3 linked regions of the Homo sapiens genome follow. The protein of the gene in region 2 purifies or fractionates together with the protein of the main gene of each other region. This does not show direct contact. Each region holds a gene or a part of one and is shown on either strand. Other genes may lie near its edges.

Evidence for each region.
Region 1: the proteins of STMN3 (region 2) and RHEB purify together in Homo sapiens (affinity purification with mass spectrometry; one large-scale study listed by BioGRID and IntAct). This does not show direct contact.
Region 3: the proteins of STMN3 (region 2) and CHAC2 purify together in Homo sapiens (affinity purification with mass spectrometry; one large-scale study listed by BioGRID and IntAct). This does not show direct contact.

What each region holds. Positions count from the first base shown.
Region 1 is NC_000007.14:151,488,853-151,492,511, reverse strand, and holds part of RHEB (GTP-binding protein Rheb), read left to right. Parts: intron 1-1,497; coding exon 1,498-1,569; intron 1,570-3,659. UniProt on the Homo sapiens protein: Small GTPase that acts as an allosteric activator of the canonical mTORC1 complex, an evolutionarily conserved central nutrient sensor that stimulates anabolic reactions and macromolecule biosynthesis to promote cellular biomass generation and growth.
Region 2 is NC_000020.11:63,646,767-63,650,425, reverse strand, and holds part of STMN3 (stathmin-3), read left to right. Parts: intron 1-3,659. UniProt on the Homo sapiens protein: Exhibits microtubule-destabilizing activity, which is antagonized by STAT3.
Region 3 is NC_000002.12:53,773,178-53,775,783, forward strand, and holds the end of CHAC2 (glutathione-specific gamma-glutamylcyclotransferase 2), read left to right. Parts: intron 1-964; coding exon 965-1,348; 3' UTR 1,349-2,019; downstream 2,020-2,606. UniProt on the Homo sapiens protein: Catalyzes the cleavage of glutathione into 5-oxo-L-proline and a Cys-Gly dipeptide. Acts specifically on glutathione, but not on other gamma-glutamyl peptides.

The sequences.
Region 1 (3,659 bases), on a different chromosome or scaffold from region 2:
CTGAGTAGCTGGGATCGCAGGTGCCCATCACCACGCTTGGGTAACTTTTTTTGTATTTTTAGTAGAGACAGGACCAACCATGTTGGCCAGGCTGGTCTCGAACTCCAGACCTCAGGTGATCCACCCGCTTCAGCCTCCCAAAGTGCTGGAATTACAAGCATGAGCCACCACACCCGGCCAGCAACCACTACTTTTAAGCCAACTTTTTAATAATTTAAATTTTAAGGAATGCCTTTGGTGTGAAAACATTGTGCAACTATACCTATCCATAGTTTGGAGGAGAAACAAGCATAAATTAAACCCAGTAGTGTAAGATGGGTGTTACCATGCCTCTCCTTCACTCTCACTGCACGTCCTGTTGTGATGGAGTTAAGTATGCCAGGCATATACAGCATGTGTGTAATAATGCTCCAAGGATGCAAGAGAGAAGGAAGGGTTTGGAGGTGAAATTAGGGAGAGACCACTTCCTCATTCCTGGTGATAAAGTCATCTGAACTATGCATCTCATGCGATTTCTTCACAGGGCATGTACCCTGTTCTAAAGTCCTCCAGTAGACATTTTAGGTAGCAGAAGAGTGAGAAGCTAAGGCTCTAGTTGTTGATTTATTAACATACAAGTTCAATTATTGGCGATTTTGTGAAATCCATAACATTTCTTAATTTCTAGATACTGCTAGGCCTTTCATACTGAATGACATAGGATTTCTAGCTTCAAAGGAGTTTTTAAGATAAAGACTTATGTTACATATTTTCAGATTACCCTTTTTTTTTTTTTGACACAGGGTCTTGCTCTGTCGCCCAGGCTTGAGTGCAGTGGTGCAATCTTGGCCCACTGCAGCCTCTGCCTCCTGGGGGCAAGCAATTCTATTATCTCAGCCTCCCAAGTAGCTGGGATTACAGGTGCCCGCCACCACACCCAGCTAATTTTTGTTAATTTTAGTAGAGACGGGATTTCGCCATGTTGGCCAGGCTGGTCTCAAACTCCTGACCTCAGGTGATCCGTCTGCCTCAGCCTCCCAAAGTGCTGGGATTACAGGCGTGAGCCATGGTGCCTGGCCGGATTACTCTTTTTAAAAGCTGTACTTGGTAACACTTCTAACCGTCATATATGAATGAATACAACGAAACTAATCATTTTAATTTTCATATTAAAATTAAATAGCAAGATTCCAAGAATACTAGAGGAAATTAGCTTACTTTAAACCTTTTAGATTATCTTTAACAGAATATCTGATGTGCTTGTTGGTCAGTAATATTTGTTAATGTCACAGACATGTTTACTTTGTAATAGCTTAATTGCATAATATCCTCATATAAAGCAAATTAATGAAATTTATTTCATTTTTTGAAATTGCTCACATGCTAATTAAATGAATGTTTTCTGACCCTGATACCTTCAGTGTCTTCATCTATTAATGGTTTTTTAATAAAACAGCAAAATTAAAAATTTTTACCTTCATATGCCAACACACACTAAGCTCTTGTTCTCTTTTATAGGGAAATCCTCATTGACGATTCAATTTGTTGAAGGCCAATTTGTGGACTCCTACGATCCAACCATAGAAAACAGTAAGTATTGTTTTCAAGTACTTAAAAACTGAGAAGCCTTCTTTTGTGTAAAATAGCCATTGTGTATTCATGGAGGCTTTGAGTGCAGGAGGTAAATTCTGTGTGTCTCCCAATTGGGGTCAAAGAAAACTTGCAAAAGATTTACCTACTTTACCCTGAAAGATTTTTCCTTCCATGTCTGCATCCCCTGCCATCTAGAAATTATTAATTCAAGTCAGTAGGAGTCTGGCCCATTACTGGAATCTTCAAATTCCAGAATCTGCTCCAAAACAGGAATGGAGAGCACAGTCTTCTCCCCCACACCCCCTTTCTCCCAGCCATTGCAGTTTCCAGGGATTCCAAGCTTGAAAGAATGAAAAACACTCGAGATCCCTGTTCCTTATTCTTACAGAAGCCGTACTCCCACCCACATTTCTCTATACCCTTCTTTCCAGCCCTAAAGATTTGAAAGAGAAATGAACTATTCTGGGATTGGATAGAGCAGTTGCAGCATTAAAAAGAAGTTGGCTCAAAAAGCCTGTTGACATTTTAGGCCATGTGCAGAAAAAAGCAGGGAAGACAGAACCAGCCATGACCTTTACTTTGTTCAATTTTAATCCATGGTTTCAGAATATTCCTGATGGATTCTAGGACCATGAGACTATTTATTTATTTTATTTTATTTTTTAAAGAGACATGAGTCTCACAGTGTTACCCAGGCTGGACTCAATATCCTGGACTCAAGTGATCCTCTTTCCTCAGCCTCCCAGGTGGCTGGAACTACAGGCATACAACACTGTGCCCAGCTTTGAGACAGATCTTGATTCTAGGGATCGCCAAGGATAATCTGAAGCAGGGAAGCTGGTCTTTTCAGGCTTAGAACCCCAGGTGGGCCCTGGAACTAGGTTTCTCAGATTCTTGAGACCAGGACTTATCTAGGATTTGTCACCAGGAACATGTAGATTTAAACATGGGATTCATCAACACCTGATTGGCATATTAGACACGAAGCATATTTCACCGGCCGGAGGCTTGCAAGAGAATCACTTGAATGCTTTGGCTGACAGTAAAGAGCTTGGCAAACGACAGCCTGCAGGCCAGCAAGGCCCATTTCCTGTCTTTATACAGACCAAGAGCTAAGAAAGGTTTTTCCATTTAAGCATAATATATAAAAGTCCAAAGAAGAATAATGTCTGGCATGTGAAAATTATATGAAATTCAAATGTTAACCTCTATAAAGTTTTATTGATACACAGCCATGCTTGTTCCTTTACATGTTGTCCTTTACATGCTGTACAATGGCAGAGTTGTTGAATAGTAAGAGCAGAGACCAGGTGGCCTACAAAGCCTAAAATATTTACTGGTACTGTCTGGCCCTTTACAGAAAAAGTTTGCTCACCCCTCGCTTAAAATATTTGGCTGTCCTTTGTGTTCCAGTGTGCTGGTAGCAGAGAAGGAAACCTGTTGGTTGATAAACTAACTCCAGGAATATTTTTGAAAGTAACCTTTCAAGATGTTATATTTGAAAGTAACCTCTGGGTATCTACAGGGAGGAGTCCTGATTACATCCTATGATTTGTCTAGCTGGTCATTATATAATAGTAAGCAAGTGTGAGGAGCAGATTAATGTGAGTGCTGGATGAACAAGCTCGGTTTTCTGTCCACTGGAATAAGAACATAAGAAAATCATCATCTTGGACCTTAATATTTGCTATACAAAGCAATTTAGGATTTTAGATCCTTGAAATAATAAGGTTCATTTTGGAATTGTATTAACAGAACAATAGAAGATTGTTTTCTTCGTAAGCTCTGCCTCTAAAAGTGGATATTGTGGCTGTATCCTCATGCCATTTCATACTGAGCTGGAATTAGCTGGGCGTGATGGTGTGTGCCTGTAGTCTCAGCTGAGACAGGCGGATCACTTGAACCCAGGAGTTTGAGGCTGCAGTGATCTGTAATCATGTCACTGTACTCCAGCCTGGGCAGCAGAGCAAGATGTGGTCTCAAAAGTAAAAACTGAGTTGGAAGGAAAGTCATGGAGTTGTGTATCATGGAGCTATATATACATACATTTTCTTAGTAAGTAATGGATCAGAAGAAAGTCCAACTTA
Region 2 (3,659 bases):
TGTGACCCTGGGAGCGGGCACTACTATACCCTGCTGCTTGAGGCCAACCTGGTGCCTTTTTCTGACTCCTGCTCATGAATCATCCAAAGGCCAATCCGCATTTCCTCGGTATCTAATGTTTAGTACAAAGAGAAGCAGGGAGACAAAACAAGCCCAGCTCACTGCGAGAATTGTTTTTAACTCCCTGAAGTCAGTGAAGGGGAAGGATGGTGGGGAGGGGGCGGTGAGAAAGAAGGGAGTCAAAGAGAGGGAGGGGCCGGGCGCGGGGGCTCACGCCTGTAATCCCAGCACTGCGGGGGGCCAGGCGCGGGGGCTCACGCCTGTCATCCCAGCACTTTGGGAGGCTGAGGTGGGCAGATCACCGGAGGTCAGGAGTTCAAGACCAGCCTGGCCAACATGGTGAAACCTCATCTCTACTAAAAATACAGAAAATTAGCTGGGCATGGTGGCATGTGCCTGTAATTCTAGCTACTTGGGAGGCTGAGGCAGGAGAATCACTTGAACTGGGGAGGCAGAGGTTGCAGTGAGCCGACATCGCGCCACTGCACTCCAGCCTGGGTGACAGAGTGAGACCCCGTCTTAAAAAAAAAAAAAAAGTCCAGGCGCGGTGGCTCACACCTGTAATCCCAGCACTTTGGGAGGCTGAGACGGGCGGATCACAAGGTCAGGAGATCGAGACCATCCTGGCTAACACAGTGAAACCCCGTCTCTACTAAAAATACAAAAAATTAGCTGGGCGTGGTGGCGGGCGCCTGTAGTCCCAGCTATTCGGGAGGCTGAGGCAGGAGAATGGCGTGAATCCGGGAGGCGGAGCTTGCCGTGAGCCGAGATTGTACCACTGCACTCCAGCCTGGGAGACAGAGTGAGACTCCGTCTCCAAAAAAACAAAAAGAGAGAGAGAGAGGGAGCAATGCCTTGAGGCTCTGGGAGGGGCTTCCCTGGCACCAGCTGTGTCTGTGGAGAGGTGGCCTGGATGGGTCTGGGCCTCGGCATCCTCTCTCTGTAATAAGAGGCAGTAGACATGCTCTTTAAGCCTCACCAGCTCTGAAAATACTGGTCCAATGCCCTGCCTCGCCCCTGACCAGCCCTGCCCTGTGCGCAGACTTCCCCTTGCTTGCTCTCTCCAGAGTTGGCCAATTCCTGACCTGCTGTCCTGCCCCCTCCAATCTGCCCTTCCTCCCTGTAGCCAGACCACAGGGCAGGCCTCACTCCCAGGCTCCGTCCTGTGGGTACCTGGTCCCACTTGCTCCTTGAGGGACAGTCTCTTGGGATAGAAGCTCCTCATGGGCCACCAGCTGGGAGAAGCCAAGCCAGGGGGTCTCCGTGGCCATCAGATGCTGAGCCGCACCTGTGTCTGCAGCTGCAGAACCCAGTTCCTCACCTCTCAGTTGGACACGTGTCTCCTGGGCAGAGCCAAGACCTGTGAGAGGTCTGACCTGCGTCCCCACCGTGCCCCTTCTTTCCTGATGATGCAGGTGCTCACACCTGCCCCCAAATTGCTGCCAGCCGTCTGCTTGCTGAGGTGAAGCAAACTGGAAGAGAGCCTCCCTGGTGTTTGTCCTTCCTCTGTATGAGCCTACAGATCTTTTTTTCGGTGAAAATTTCAGGCTTAGGGCAGACAGGGGCTTTGAGCAGCTGTTAATCACATTTTCTGGCCTTTATGGTAAACACATTCCAGTTTTTGTTTTTTGAGACAGAGTCTCGCTGTGTTGCCCAGGCTGGAACGCAGTGGCACAATCTCTGCTCACTACAACTTCCGCCTTCCAGGCTCAAGTGATTCTCCTGCCTCAGCCTCCTGAGTAGCTGGGGCAACAGGCATGTGCCACCACACCCAGCTAATTTTTATATTTTTAGTAGAGATGGGGTTTCACCATGTTGCCTAGGCTGGTCTCAAACTCTTGTTCTCAAGCGATCCTCCTGCCTCAGCCTCCCAAAGTTCTGGGATTACAGGCGTGAGCCACTGCGCCCGGCCACATTCAGAGTTTTGGATGTGTGATAAGGAAGGATGAGCTGAAGGGTAGGGGCCTGGAGTCTGCTGATAGGGAGCTGGTTGCTGGCAGAGTCAGGCCTGGAGGGGCCAAGTCCCTACCTTCTTATCCTCTCAGGACCCAGGTACGTTCTGCCCCAGCCCAAACTCCCTCTTGCTCTCTCCCTCCCCCGTCCTCCTGAGCACAGGGTTGGCCACCTCTTCAGCTCCTCTAAATGTCCCCAATGTCTCCTGACCTGCTGCTGTGGAACACATGGCTGGCACACCCTCTAACTCCCTCATCACATCCTCTTGTTTAACATTAATTTTTAATAGGCTAGGTACTGTGGCTTACACCTATAATCCTAGTGCTTTGGGAGGCTGAGGTGGGAGGGTCTCTTGAGGCCGGGAGTTCAAGATCAGCCTGGACAAGACAGCAAGACCTATCACTACTCTCTCTCTCTCTGTATATATATATGTATATATATATATATATATACATATATATATACACACACACACATATATACGTATATATATTAATATATACACACGTGTATATATACGTATATATATTAATATATACACGTGTATATATACGTATATATATTAATATATACATATATACGTATATATATTATATATACACGTGTATATATACGTATATATATTATATATATACACGTGTATATATGTATATATATTATATATATACACGTGTATATATATGTATATAATATATATACACGTGTATATATATTATATATATACACGTGTATATATACGTATATATATATTATATATATACATGTATATATATATATGTTTGTTTGTGTTTGTTTTTGAGACAGAGTCTCACTCTGTCACCCAGGCTGGAGTGCAGTGGCGTGATCTCAGCTCACTGCAACCTCTGCCTCCTGGGTTCAAGCGATTCTCCCGTCTCAGTCTCCCGAGTAGCTGGGACTACACGTGCCCGCCACCATGCCTGGCTAATTTTTGTTATTTTTAGTAGAGACAGGGTTTCATCATGTTGGTCAGGCTGGTCTCGAACTCCTGACCTCATGATCTGCCCGCCTTGGCCCCTCAAAGTTCTGGGATTACAGGCGTGAGCCACCATGCCCGGCCTCCATACCACTACAAATTTTTTTTTTTTTTTTGAGACGGGAGTCTTGCTCCCAGGCTGGAGTGCAGTAGCTCGATCTTGGCTCACTTCAACCTCCACCTCCCGGGTTCAAGTGATTCTCCTGCCTCAGCCTCCCAAGTAGCTGGAATTAGAGGAGCCCGCCACCACGCCTGGCTGATTTTTATATTTGTAGTAGAGACAGGGTTTCGCCATGTTGGCCAGGTTGGTCTTGAACTCCTGACCTCAGGTGATCTGCCTGCCTCAGCCTCCCAAAGTGCTGGGATTACAGGCATGAGCCACCACGCCCAGCTATTTTTTTCTTTTTTTTAAGCTGGTGTGTAGGCCGGGCGGGCGCGGTGGCTCAAGACCAGCCTGACCAACATAGTGAAACCCTGTCTCTACTAAAAATACAAAAATTAGCCGGGTGTGGTGGCATGTGCGTGTAATCCCTGCTACTTGGGAGGCTGAGGCAGGAGAATCGCTAGAACCCAGGAGGCGGAATTGCAGTGAGCAGAGATAAAAAAAAAAAGAAAACTGGTGTGCTGGCATGCACCTGTAGTCCCAGCTGCT
Region 3 (2,606 bases), on a different chromosome or scaffold from region 2:
AACAGTTAATAAACAAATGGCACTTTGTTTCTAGAATTTTTTAATGACCAAGTGAAAGGCTCATATTTTTCATTTCAGTCCCGTTATTAAAGAAAAAGACCAAATTAAAAAAAAATTTTTTTAAGATAAAATATCTTGCTGTGCCTATGATACAAAGAAATTATTCACAATGGAGATTTTAAAGTGCTTATTTCCTTTATTGTTTAGTATGTTCTTCTGTGCACTTTAAGTGAAGAAAAACTGTATTGACTTTTATTTATTTTTTATTTTTTTGAGACAGTCTCACTCTATAACCCAGGCTTGAGTTCAGTGGCATGATCTCGGCTCACTGCCACCTCTGCCACCCGGGTTCAAGCAATGCTCCTGCCTCAGCCTCCTGAGTAGCTGGGATTACAAGTGCCTGCCACTGTGCCTGACTAATTTTTGTATTTTTAGTAAAGACGGGGTTTCACCATCTTGGCCAGGCTGGTCTTCCACTCCTGACCTCGTGATCCACTCACCTCGGCCTCCCAAAGTGCTGGTATTACAGGCGTGAGCCACCGCTCCTGGCCCACTTTTAAAAATATACAAGATACAGGCAGGCATGGTGGTTCACACCTGTAATCCCAGCACACTGGGAGGCCGAGGCAGGTGGATCACTTGAGGTCAGGAGTTTGAGACCAGCCTGGCCAACGTGACAAAACCCCTTCTCTACTAAAAATACAAAAATTAGCTGGGCATGGTGGTGCATTCCTGTAATCCCAGTCACTTGAGAGGCTGAGGCAGGAGAATAGCTTGAACCCGGGAGGCTGAGGTTGCAGTAGGCCACGATCGTGCCACTGCACCACAGCCTGGGCAACAGACAAGACTTCATCTCAAAAACAAACAGAAAAGAATATATGAGATACTCCCTTAGATCACAACCTTTCTTCACCTATTTTAATTAGCCTTATAATACCAGTGTATTCTTTTCATTTTTCAACAGGGATGTGTATGGGGTGTTGCTTACAGATTGCCAGTAGGAAAGGAAGAAGAAGTAAAAGCATACCTTGACTTCAGAGAAAAAGGAGGCTACAGAACCACAACAGTCATTTTTTATCCAAAAGATCCCACAACAAAACCATTCAGTGTATTGCTATATATTGGAACATGTGATAATCCTGATTATCTTGGTCCTGCACCTCTGGAAGACATTGCTGAACAAATTTTTAATGCAGCTGGTCCAAGTGGAAGAAATACAGAATATCTTTTTGAACTTGCAAATTCTATTAGGAACCTTGTGCCAGAAGAAGCAGATGAGCATCTTTTCGCTTTGGAAAAATTAGTAAAGGAACGTTTAGAAGGGAAACAGAACCTCAATTGCATATAATTTAGTCTTCAGAGAATTAACTTCAGTGCACAATGACAATATGATTTGGAAATACGTTTACTTAAAGATCTTATTTTTAATGTAGTGAGGATATTATTTAAACTTTTATTTTAACTGGAAATGTCCTGAAACACATATTTAAAATATTGGGATACAGTGAAAGAAAAATTCAAATTTTAATAACATAAAGATTTCCTAACTTTATGTTATTGAACACTTACTCACTAGAAGTGAGTTCTTTAGAAAAATACAGTGAAGGACTCAGTTCAGTCTTGTTTTTATCAGAGTGATAATCATCCTGTTTCACATCCCAATACTATTTTGAAATTCTAAACAATTAAACCAAAATTCCAATAAATATAAGGTTATGCCTTCAATATATTCCTATACAATTCTGTAACCATGGTTTAAAATACACAAGCTTAAAATAACATGCTTAGAAATACACAATAATATGAACAGTATTTCAGCCTTAATTGTGAATTTCCTTGTTATTCAAGTATTAAATGAAATCTTTTGAGTTTTTAGCCAAAAATTGGCATTTTTAAAATACGAAAATTTCCTTGGAATTATAATGTACTGTACCTCTTCTTTTTTAAATAAAGGCATTTTACTATATGGAAAATAACTCACTAAAGCATAAATTACATTATACAAATCATGATCACTAATGATGTAGTCTGTCATTCACTTTGTATTAATCTTATACCAAAACTGAAAAAGATGGGCTGATACTACAAATTAATGGCACATATAATGAAAATTTAGTTTTTAAAACAGCTTTTGGAATTCTTTGTCTGTCACTATCTCAATTTGTGTGTGTGTGTGTGTATATACATATATATACATATAAAATTTTTTTTTTCTTTGCAGCCTGCGTCTGGCCATCCCACAGGCTGGAAAGTGTAACCTCTGGCAGAAGCCAAGAACAGGCACCTCCTGGAATTATAATTTTGTTTTGTTTTTTGAGACGGAGTATCGCTCTGTTGCCTAGGCTGGAGTGCAGTGGTGCCAACCTCAGCTCACTGCAGCCTTCACCTCCCAGGTTCAAGGAATTCTCCTGCCTCAGCCTCCCGCGTAGCTGGGATTACAGGCATGTGCCACCACGCCCGGCTAATTTTTGTATTTTTAGTAGAGACGGGGTTTCACCATGTTGGCCAAGCTGGTCTCGATCTCCTGACCTCAGGTGATCCACCAGCCTCAGCCTCCCAAAGTGCTAGGATTACAGGTGTGAGCCACCATGCCCGGCCTATAATTT